Homo sapiens: one gene and its partners. The protein of the gene in region 2 purifies or fractionates together with the protein of the main gene of each other region. This does not show direct contact. Each region holds a gene or a part of one and is shown on either strand. Other genes may lie near its edges.

Region 1 (3,656 bases), on a different chromosome or scaffold from region 2:
GGAGGCGGACCTTGCAGTGAGCCAAGATTGCGCCACTGCACTCCAGCCTGGGTGACAGAGCGAGACTCTGTCTCAAAAAAAAAAAAAAAAGAATAATACAGTGGACTCTGGGGAGTCAGGGAAACGGTGGGAAGGAAGTGAGGGATAAAAGACTACAAACTGGATTCATACCTACTACTTGGGTGATGGGTGCACCAAAATCTCACAAATCGCCACTAAAGAACTTACTCATGTAACCAAATACCACCTGTTCCCCAAAAACCCATGGAAATAAAAAATTTAAAAATAATAATAAATAAATAAAAATGAAGGCAACACAAAAATGTTTTCTTTTTTTGGCCGGGTGCAGTGGCTGACACCTTAACTGCAGCACTTTGGGAGGCCAAGGTGAGTGGATCGTTTCAGGTCAGGAGTTTGAGACCAGCCTGGCCAACGTGGTGAAACCCCATCACTACTAAAAATACAAAAATCGGCCAGGTGCGGTGGCTCACCCCTGTAATCCCAGCACTTTGGGAGGCCAAGGCGGGCAGATTACTAGAGGTCAGGAGTTTGAGAACAGCCTGGCCAATATGGGGAAACCCCATCTCTACTAAAAATACAAAAAAATTAGCCAGACGTGGTGGCATACGTCTGTAGTCCCAGCTATTTGGGAGGCTGAGGCAAGCAAATCGCTTGAACCCAGGCAGCAGCGGTTGGCAGTGAGCCAAGGTCGCGCCACTGCACTCCAGCCTGGGTGACAGGGCGAGACTCCATCTCTATACAAAATAAAATTAAAATAAAATAAAATAAAATAAAATAAAATAAAATAAATACAATAAAATAAAATAAAATACAAAAATCAGCCTGGCATGGTGGCGAGCACCTGCAGTCCCAGCTACTTGGGAGGCTGAGGCAGGAGAATTGCTTGAACCTGGGAAGCGGAGGTTGCAGTGAGCTGAGATTGTACCACTGCACTCCAGCCTGAGCAACAGAGCGAGACTCTGTCTCAGAAAAAAAAAGGAGAAAGCAAATTATGTCACTGTGTTCATTTTATCTTTGAAGAGTACACAGTTTTATGCAAAATAAGTACCGCAGTATGCTGCAGAGCGGTTGACAAAATATTGTATTTTGGTTTTACTTCTCTATTTTGAAAGTAATAAAGAAATATAAGTATTTCTGGTTAATATTTTAAAACAGCCCACCAAATCCATGAGCAGAAATGGATTATCATCAACATACTTCACAAAAGTCTATCCAAGTACAAAAATCTTTTATCCTGAAAATCATTAAAATGCAAAATCATATATCTGAATAAAATATATAATGATTTAACTGGTGGGAACACAGAAAAAAAATCATGAAATAATTGTGAAGTATTTAAGCCAGGCACGATGGCTCACGCCTGTAATCCCAGCACTTTGGGAGGCTGAGACGGGCAGATTACCTGAGGCCAGGAGCTCGAGACCAGCCTGGCCAACAGGACAAAACCCCGTCTCTGCTAAAAACAGAAAAATTAGTCAGGTGTGGTGGCACATGCCTGTAATCCCAGCTACTTGGGAGGCTGAGGCAGGAGTATCACTTGAACTTGGGAGGCGGAGGTTGCAGTGAGCTGAGATCACGCCACCACACTCCAGCCTGGGTAACAGCGCGACTGCGTTTCAATCAATCAATCAATCAATCAATAAAATATTTAAAATTATACTAAGGCCTTATACCTTGGAAGCAAAAAGTAAGCAGTTGGAGGGCTTTCCCTCTAAAATCAGGAAAAAGTATGTCTGCTCTTGCCACTTGTACTCAATGTTGTCGAGTTTCTAGCAAAAGAATTAGGCAATAAAATGAAATAAAAGACATCTACATTGAACAAGAAGTAAACCCATGTGTTTACAGATGAAACAATCTTACAGAAAAACATAAGAAATCCACTAAAAAATTTAGAATAATGAGTTCAGCAAGGATACAAGATCAATATACAAAAATCAATTGTATTTCTGTATACTTTTGCAATAAACAATCCAAAAATGAAATTAGGAAAGCAGTTCCAGCTGGGCGCGGTGGCTCACGCCTGTAATCCCAGCACTTTGGGAGGCCGAGGCGGGCTGATCACGAGGTCAGGAGATCGAGACCATGGTAAAACCCCATCTCTACTAAAAATACAAAAAAAAATTAGATGGGTGCAGTGGCGGGCGCCTGTAGTCCCAGCTACTCGGGAGGCTGAGGCCGGAGAATGGGGTGAACCCGGGAGGCGGAGCTTGCAGTGAGCCAAGATGGTGCCACTGCACCCCAGCATGGGCAACAGAGCGAGACTGTCTCAAAAAAAAAGAAATCAGTTCCATTAAAAAAATCACCAAAAAGAATAAAATACTTACGAATATATTTAACAAATGAAGTGTAAAACTCACACTGTGAAAAACTACAAAATACTATTTAAACAAACTGAAGACCTAAACAAATGAAGGCATCCCACATTCATGGATCGGAAGATGTAATATTGTTAAGATGGCAATATTCCCTAAATTGACCTACAGATTCAATAAATTCCCTATCAAAATTCCATGTGGCATCTTTGCTGATTCTAAAATTCATATAGAAATTCAAGGAAATGGAATAGCCAAGACAATCTTGAAAAAGAACAAAGGTGGAGGACATACTTCCTGACTTCAAAAATTATGACAAAGCCACGGTAACACAGTGTGTTGCTGGCATTTAGATAGATATATAGATCAATGGAACAGAACTGGGAGTTTAGAAATCAACTCTCGCATTTACAGTCAACTGATTTTTGACAAGGGTGCCAAGATAATTCAATGGAGAAAGAAGAGTCTTTTCAAAAAATGGTTCTGGGACAACTAGATGTCCACATATAAAAGAATAAAATTGGACCTCTATACTTCACACCCTATATAAAAATTAACTCAGAAATGGATAAAAGTCCTAAATGTAAGAGCTAAAACTACAAAGCTCTTAAGCATAAATCTTCATGACCTTGGATTAGCAAGAGAAACTTAAATGATGAAAAAAAGACAGACATGCAAGGATGTGGAGGAAGACTATTTCAAAGAAAGAAAATAGCAACAAAAGCCCGGAGAGAAACAGAACCAACCTAACACACTCAAAAGACAGAGAGAGAAAATCAGAGAGGTAGGTAGGGGCCTTAGAGGCCAAGTTCAGGTACATATGCATGGCAAAAGCATATTATTTGGCAAAAGCTATATTATAATAAAGTCGAGCACTGCTCCAGGGAGAGCATTCCACATAGTAAACCATGATGTGAAAGTTGCCTGCCTGTAGGAGTGGAGCAATGAAACAGTTCAGACCACAATTTATTTAAACTGACCTCACGGCTCTTCAAACAGCTGTTCCTTAAGTCTCATGTGTGTTTAATTCAATCTTATGCATATTTTCAATAATTATACCAACCAATTAATTATATATGCTGACTTCTTAAAAATGGCATCTCTCAGGTTTTATTCACGTTTTGTGCAAACAATTAAATCTCAGTGAAATTCAAATTGTCTACATGGCTTCTTTATTTCTTTTATTTTTAATTTTCTTTCTATTTATTTACGTGGTTCAAATTTCGAAAGGGTAAAAAGTCCCCCTCTTATCCTGCCTCTCAGACACATATTTCCCATCTCTGGAGGCAACAAATGTTATCAGTTGGTTCCTTCTGTATCTTT
Region 2 (3,656 bases):
TTTTATCATGCAAATAATTTCTCGATTTTTAAAAAGAATGAAAGTAGAGAAAAACATACCATGTCTCAGTTATCTTACTCTCAAGTATACAAATCTTCAGAAATTTTGTCCTCAGTTAAACTCTATCTCCTTACAAGACTACCCAGATTTCCTAGGCAGACTCAGAGGCTAGCTTCTTAAAAATGCATCTGCTTTTTAGAGAATTACTCTGTTGGATTATATTTGTTTTCTTATACATTTGTCTTCTCCACTAGATTGAGTTTCTTGAATATAAAAAAAGGTCTATCCACTTATTTTTATCCCCAGTATACAGCTGGGGTTAAAAAAAACTAATGGAATATGACAGAACATCCAGTACCATTCCAATGAGTAAACATATCTTGTAACTAAAAGTTACTGTTTTGCCTAACAAAGTACATAAATGACCTCTCTTCATAAATTTTGGTACAATTTTTAATCTGTTTCTTTCAAGATGTGTAACCACAAAGGGGAAAAACAGGTAAGAAAGAACTTATGTAAGTATTTGTCAAAACTATCCCTGTTGTCAATTCATTCATCTCCATCATAGAAGTAGCTGGAAATTGAACTGCTGAATCTAATTTCAACCATTACCTACAATTCCTTTTTTTTTTTTTTTAATGAAACGCTTCACAAATTTGCGTGTCATTCTTGTACAGGGGCCATGTAATCTCTGTATCATTCCAGTTTTAGTATACTTGCTGCCGAAGCAAGCACTAATTCTCAAAGAGTTCATTTTCACATGGGTAATGAAAACCTTTTTCTGCTCCTTTACTATTAGCAATCATTCCTATTGCTTATTCTAAATTAAGCCTTTATTGGCCAGGCATAGTGGCTCACGCTATAATCCTAGCACTTTGGAAGGCCGAGGTGGAATAATCCCTTGAGCCTAGGAGTTTGAGACTAGCCTGGGCAACATAGTAAGACCCCGGTCTCCATAAATAATAAAAAATAAATTAAATATTTTAAAAATAAAATAAATTAAGCCTTTATTGATGGTTTTTTTCTATTAGAAATTAAGATTCACGTTGATTTTACCATTATTCCATTATATGTGAAGTATCTACAATGTCCTAACTCTTATTAATACCTTTTATCACCACAGCTTCATCAGTATAGAGGTAGTCCAAAATAACTTTTAATATATCAGAATGTATTGGCATTTCCAGAGCTGCACAACTGGAAGCCTAAATAAAATAAGACAAAATAAAGTAAAATAATTCATTCTAAACAATAAAATATTACATTCTAATTTGGGTTATTGGTACAAAACACTCTGAACAGGAAATCACATCAAATGCAAAACATAAAATTTACAAAACACATGGCTAAAATAATATTAAATTTAATTTTAAAACATAACATGAAAAAGGAACAAAAAAATTCAGAAAACAAGAAACACAGTGGTGTTCCTAATACATTTCTAAATAATAACGGGGAAATTTTTATTTAAGTAGCTTCTTGGCAATAATTTTAAATTCTAAGTGTTGCTATTTTCCAGCAGCCTCAAGCATAAAGTTTAATATAAATGAAAAACTGAGCTAAAATATCCAGTTCTGATTTTGAATTTCTTTACTACATACTTTGCACAAAATATAAAGAAACATAGTTACCAACCTAGGCGCTTTTTACTTAAATCTTACCTCAATCCATGAGCTACTCAGCATACTATGAAAATATTCTAAAAGAAAAAAAAGTTCAATGCAATAAGAATAGTGAAACAATACTACAGCAAATAAATCAGCAGCTTTAAAAAGTGCACCTACCAAGTCTAGCACAAAGAACACATTTATGACAAGGAAATTCCTTTCCATCCACTGATTTCATGGTCACGTCACACAGAAATGAACTGCAAGAAAATGTTTAATTGAAGCAAGAGCAATTTCTTTACATATTTAGTGAAAAAGATTATAGGATTTGGCTTAACTTTCAGTTTTCTCTTAAAGGTGGCAGAGAATAAATAACTTGCAGGAATACATACAATAAAATACTTCATCTTTTTCCACCACAGGGAAGATAAGGGCCTTAGAGTAAAGACAATATTTGAAAAGGGAGCCGAATACAAATATTCAAAAAGTATTTTTCTGATTTTCCTTTTTTTTATTCCAGAAAAACTGTTAATAATATAATACTAAGTGATATCATATTTAAGTCTCTGTAATTCACTTATTTGTAGTAGCTAATCTGGGCCAAGCACAGTTGAAACAACTCCACAGTTTATCCTTCTCCAAAACCTTTTCACTTACAGAGGAAGCATGAATAGCTAAAAACAAAACTTTTTTTTTCTTTGAAACGGGGTCTCGTTCTGCCACCCAGGCTGGAGTGCAATGGTGCAATCTTGTCTCACTGCAACCTCCGCCTCCCGAGTACAAGTGATTCTCCTGCCTCAGCCTCCCAAGTGGCTGGGATCACAGGCACCCGCCACTATGCCCGGCTAATTTTTGTATTTTCTTCGTAGAGACAGGATTTCACCATGTTAATCAGGCTCTTGACCTCAGGTGATCCACCTGCCTCGGCCCCCCAAAGTGCTGAGATTACAGGCGTGAGCCACCACACCAGGCCCTAAAAACAAAACTTTTTAACAATATATTTAGAATAGTATATTTATTACTAAGAATTTTTTATACTAAAGGCAATAATCATAACAATGATGAAGAGGTATAATTAATTGGTTTGGGGGCTAATAACATTTCCTAATTATAACAAGGCACAAAATTCAGGCAAGAAAAAATAAAAATTAAAAGTTCCACTCTCTATTAGAAAGTCATCGGAAAGAAAAAACTCCTTTGATGTCTTCAGCAGTTAATATTTTATCAATTTACTTCAACAGCTCCCCAACATTTCCAGAAATGCAGAATACTAGAAAAGGTAAGAGGGTATCTACCTATACATTTTGCTTCATATGTGGGTAAGCAGAGATCTATTTCCACACTTAAGTGCCAAAATCCAGACATGAAATGTTAATCTTCCTTTCCTTACTTACCATTTTTTCTGACTTAGCTTCAGTTTATTACCAGTGTTCTTGGCAATAACATTAATTTTTTCATTTTCAAATCTGACTCCATCTAACCTATCAAGGATAGATAAAAATTAACAATTGATATTCCCCTACAAAAATAAACATACAACAAAAAATCCAACAAATTAGCTTACATCTAAATATAATACTGTATCCTAGAAAAGTATCTCAACAAACTCCTACTCTGAGATAAAGAAATATCATACTTTTTCTTCCATTTTAGTTAGAATTCAAAATAGATTAAACATTACTGACAAAAGACAAATCAAAGCCATAGCACAAAGTTTTTCCTTTTTTTTTTTTGAGACGAAGCCTCGCTCTGTTGCCCAGGCTAGAGTGTGGTGGCATGATCTTAGTTCACTGCAACCTCCACCTCCCAGGTTCACATGAATCTCCTGCCTCAGCCAACCCAGTAACTGGGACTACAGGCATTCACCACCATTCCCGGCTAATTTTTGTAATTTTTTGTAGAGACAGGGTTTCGCCATGTTGGCCAGCTTGGTCTCAAACTCCTGACCTCAGGAGATCTGCCCACCTCAGCCTCCCAAAGTGCTGGGATTACAGGCGTGAGCCACCGCGCCCGGCCCCTTCATTATTTTTAAACAGGAAACACGATACA
Region 3 (3,656 bases), on a different chromosome or scaffold from region 2:
AGTTCAAGATCTGAAATTGGGTTACCTTCATTATTATCTCAGGAGGAATACAATGAGTTAGAAGCTCATACAGCCTTCCACGAACTTCAAGGAGCCTACATAAAACAAAATAATTGGTATTTTGTGAAGAAAATAAGAGGTAATTTTTCCAAATTCCCACTGTATGGTTTTACTTTATGAATTAACAAACAATCCAATACAGAATTAACAACTTTATGACCTAACTTTATGAATTAACAAACAATCCAGTAAGAAATAATAACTGTTTCTTAAATAGTTTACCATACTTAGGATAAACATATGGAGGCTTCTCCTAACTTCAGTTCATTTTTGAAACAGAACATTTTCAGAACTCTTTTAAAATGAGACGTCTATATTCAGGGTTCCTAATTATATCAAAACACCATGAAAATACCAGATAGAAATTGAGACTTCATGAAGAGCGCGGGTTGAGCTTATTCACACCATGGAATTTAACAAACTTTAATGACATGTCAAGTAATATGTTTTTCTTTTCTCCAGACAGATACCTGAAACATCCAGGAAATGGTCATGAAAAGATTAAAAAGTCAATTACATAGGTGACACAAGATAATATACGCATGAAATATAATACAATGCCACTGCCTAGATTGCACAGTAAAAAAGCAATGTGGCAGGGATACAGAGCTGTCCCTGTCATAAAAGGGGCGGCACAAAGGTTTACAGGTAAGCACGCAACCAGGCTAAGCGAATAGGAACATTCAAACCTCTGAGTCCTTCATTCTAGGCCCTTCTCATATTCTAGGGAGAGAAAGGGGAAGAGGAGGGAAATGTACATATGACGTTTTAAAACAGAAAAAAAAAAAAAAGAGAGAAAGTTCCAAATACACATTCTTAAAGGGAAAAACTTCTGAATTTTTACAGTACAGATATATATATATATATATATATATATATATATACACACAGTACAGATGTTCCATACTTCAGATAAATCCAGGTAGTGATTTATAAGAATTCTTAAAAAGCAGAAGTCAATCCTAAGACGTCAGGAATATGAAGCCCTGGCACATTAAATCTTAAAAAAAGTGGGGGAAAAAAAAAAAGAACTAGCATTTCTGGGGCATCTGCTATGTGTAAGAATTGAAACAAATAATTTAACTCAGTACTTACACTAGCCCATTTATTTCAGATGAAAAAACTAAGGCCCAGATGGTTTAAGTAACTGACAGAACTGACCACAGCAAAGCATGATTTAACACAGATCTATCTTTCTTACTCCAAAGTCCACACCCTTTCCAATGTCTGTGAAAGTATTTAACACCTTAATTCTGTACTAGGTTCGCTGCAATACACTATTAATTCCCCACAACAATGATGCTCTTTTACTGAAACAAACCTGAAGTTCAGACAGGTCAGGCTTCCATCAAGACTTGTGTATTTGAGCCAGCATTTGAATTCAGGCCTGACTCAAAAGCCTGTGATTTCTCTGACATCCCAAGAATAAAACTTGATTATTAAAGCATGAATAATAAAAATAATTTCATATGGTATGAAATTATTTTAATATATGTATATAGCTTACTTCTGAAAAGTTGATTCAGGATGTAGTTACCTATACAATTGAAGTAACTATACTGTGTGTAGTGCATACATGTTAACATGCATCTTGTGTTAGTCTTGAGTTAACTTCTAACATTACTGTTTTACAAAATTAACATATTCTACATTTACCATGTCTGTGTCATTATTTCCTAATAGCTTACAAGTGATTAAGAGTACAAACTCTTCTGTCAGAGAAACATGGGTATCCTAGAACTGTCTCTATTATAATAATGGAATGTACCTGAACAAGGTACCTAATCTCCATAAATGTCAGGGTTTTTTTTTTAATCTAAAAAGTTAATATTTTTCTCATAGGTGTGTTATATCAATTAAATAACACGGTGTAAGAGCTGACATAATCATTCATGAAATATTCGCTGCTATTCAAATTAGAAAATTATGACTGTTCTAAGACAGATCAAATGAAAAATCGAGACCACAAATATTCCAGCAAGACAAAGGAGTCAGAAATCAGAAGTAATCATTTGGAATTGTGTAGCCCAGTGATCAGAAAGATACCAGACTTCCAGGATTTCTGGCCAGCCCCAAGGCTTTCTGGAATTGAGCAAAATTTCTTTTTATGTAGCACAATGGAATCAATTCCTACAATTGTTGGTTTAAACAGGAAACAGGAGCACCGCTTCCTGCACAAGTTCATTTATAAGCCGTCAAAATGTGTTAGGAAAACCAGAAGAAATTTGTAACAGCAGCTAGAAGAATTAAGCAAAGGAATAATCAAGTAGTTTTATAAAAGCACGTGATAATTATCAAACATTACAACCTCAAGTACCTAAATCCCCTAAAAGTAGGTAAGTTATATTGCTATCAATTTTTCTTCTTTAATATCAGAACAAAAACAAGAAAGTCATCTTCAGTGTAGAAATATTTTATAAAAGTAAAAGGCACCTAAGACATGCTTTATTTGAATTTTATCTCTTTAAAGGGTGAGGTCTCTTTATTGATAATCAACATTTTACAAAATAAAATGAACATATTTTTCCTAAAGATGAAGTTTCTTTTCTAATGAGACTACTTATAACATTTGGTACTTCTTGGAGAAAACTATCGATTTCTTCAACTAAAATAATTGAATTCTGAGAATTCAAAGCAAACCTTAAATGAAATACTAAGTACCCACTATGTATGATCCACTATCCACCTCCACCAATCTATATGGTAACCAGGGAATACATGTTACAATACCTTTGAAGAATTTCTTAAAAAATTAGAATTCATCAGATGTATCAACAAAAGGAGAAACATGGCATATTCCTCTATTATTTTCATTAGACCAAGGAAGAGTAAGCTCTATTGGCTGCAGTCTATTCAGTCTATAGACTGAACTCAGTTTATTCTGAACCCTAAAATGATCAACTACCCTCTGTAAGGTCCAAAGATCATTTCTCAGTTCAGAAACCCAACAAGGATATGAGACTGTGCTTTAGCCAAGTCTGAGGAACCTTCTTCATACTCTCCAAAGTTAGTGGGCCTTAACATTGTCATTTTTTATTTGGAGGAAAGCAAACTGTGTTTCTCAATCGAAGCTGCCATAAGTCAAACAACTAGCAGCTGAGGTATTTTCAGAATGGTCAACCTACAAATAATAGACCTACAGAAGTAACGGAAGCAATTTTGAGCAAATGTGTCAAAAAATACTTCCTGAGTAAAAATGGTATATACACAATGCTATCCTTAGTAGAACGCATGGTCATCTATAAGCACAGGGTTTTTTAGTTTTCAAACCATTAATAACTCTTTTGCTCTTCACAACAAATGCAAAAGTACCCTTGGTGAGGCAATAATAATATCTTCAATATACAAATGAAGATAAAACTCTAAAATGAAGTTACCTGATCAAGAACACTTAGCTAGGAGTTCAGGACAAGAACTAGAAGTCTGACTTATAGTCTGGTGTCTTTCTAGCACATGATGCATCATTGATTACAAAGTTTTACATTGTCCTTTACTAGAAAGCTACGCACATTATCTCTAGCTTTGTGTTGTATGTTAATGTTAAGTAATCTGAGATCCTAAAAGGAAAATTAAAATTAATATAAATTCCACTTTTA

The links.
Region 1: the proteins of IBTK (region 2) and RFC1 purify together in Homo sapiens (affinity purification with mass spectrometry; one large-scale study listed by BioGRID and IntAct). This does not show direct contact.
Region 3: the proteins of IBTK (region 2) and RFC3 purify together in Homo sapiens (affinity purification with mass spectrometry; one large-scale study listed by BioGRID and IntAct). This does not show direct contact.

What each region holds. Positions count from the first base shown.
Region 1 is NC_000004.12:39,359,748-39,363,403, forward strand, and holds part of RFC1 (replication factor C subunit 1), read right to left. Parts: intron 1-3,656. UniProt on the Homo sapiens protein: Subunit of the replication factor C (RFC) complex which acts during elongation of primed DNA templates by DNA polymerases delta and epsilon, and is necessary for ATP-dependent loading of proliferating cell nuclear antigen (PCNA) onto primed DNA.
Region 2 is NC_000006.12:82,209,706-82,213,361, forward strand, and holds part of IBTK (inhibitor of Bruton tyrosine kinase), read right to left. Parts: intron 3,089-3,656; coding exon 3,002-3,088; intron 1,868-3,001; coding exon 1,785-1,867; intron 1,700-1,784; coding exon 1,662-1,699; intron 1,206-1,661; coding exon 1,109-1,205; intron 1-1,108. UniProt on the Homo sapiens protein: Acts as an inhibitor of BTK tyrosine kinase activity, thereby playing a role in B-cell development. Down-regulates BTK kinase activity, leading to interference with BTK-mediated calcium mobilization and NF-kappa-B-driven transcription.
Region 3 is NC_000013.11:33,831,587-33,835,242, reverse strand, and holds part of RFC3 (replication factor C subunit 3), read right to left. Parts: intron 96-3,656; coding exon 26-95; intron 1-25. UniProt on the Homo sapiens protein: Subunit of the replication factor C (RFC) complex which acts during elongation of primed DNA templates by DNA polymerases delta and epsilon, and is necessary for ATP-dependent loading of proliferating cell nuclear antigen (PCNA) onto primed DNA.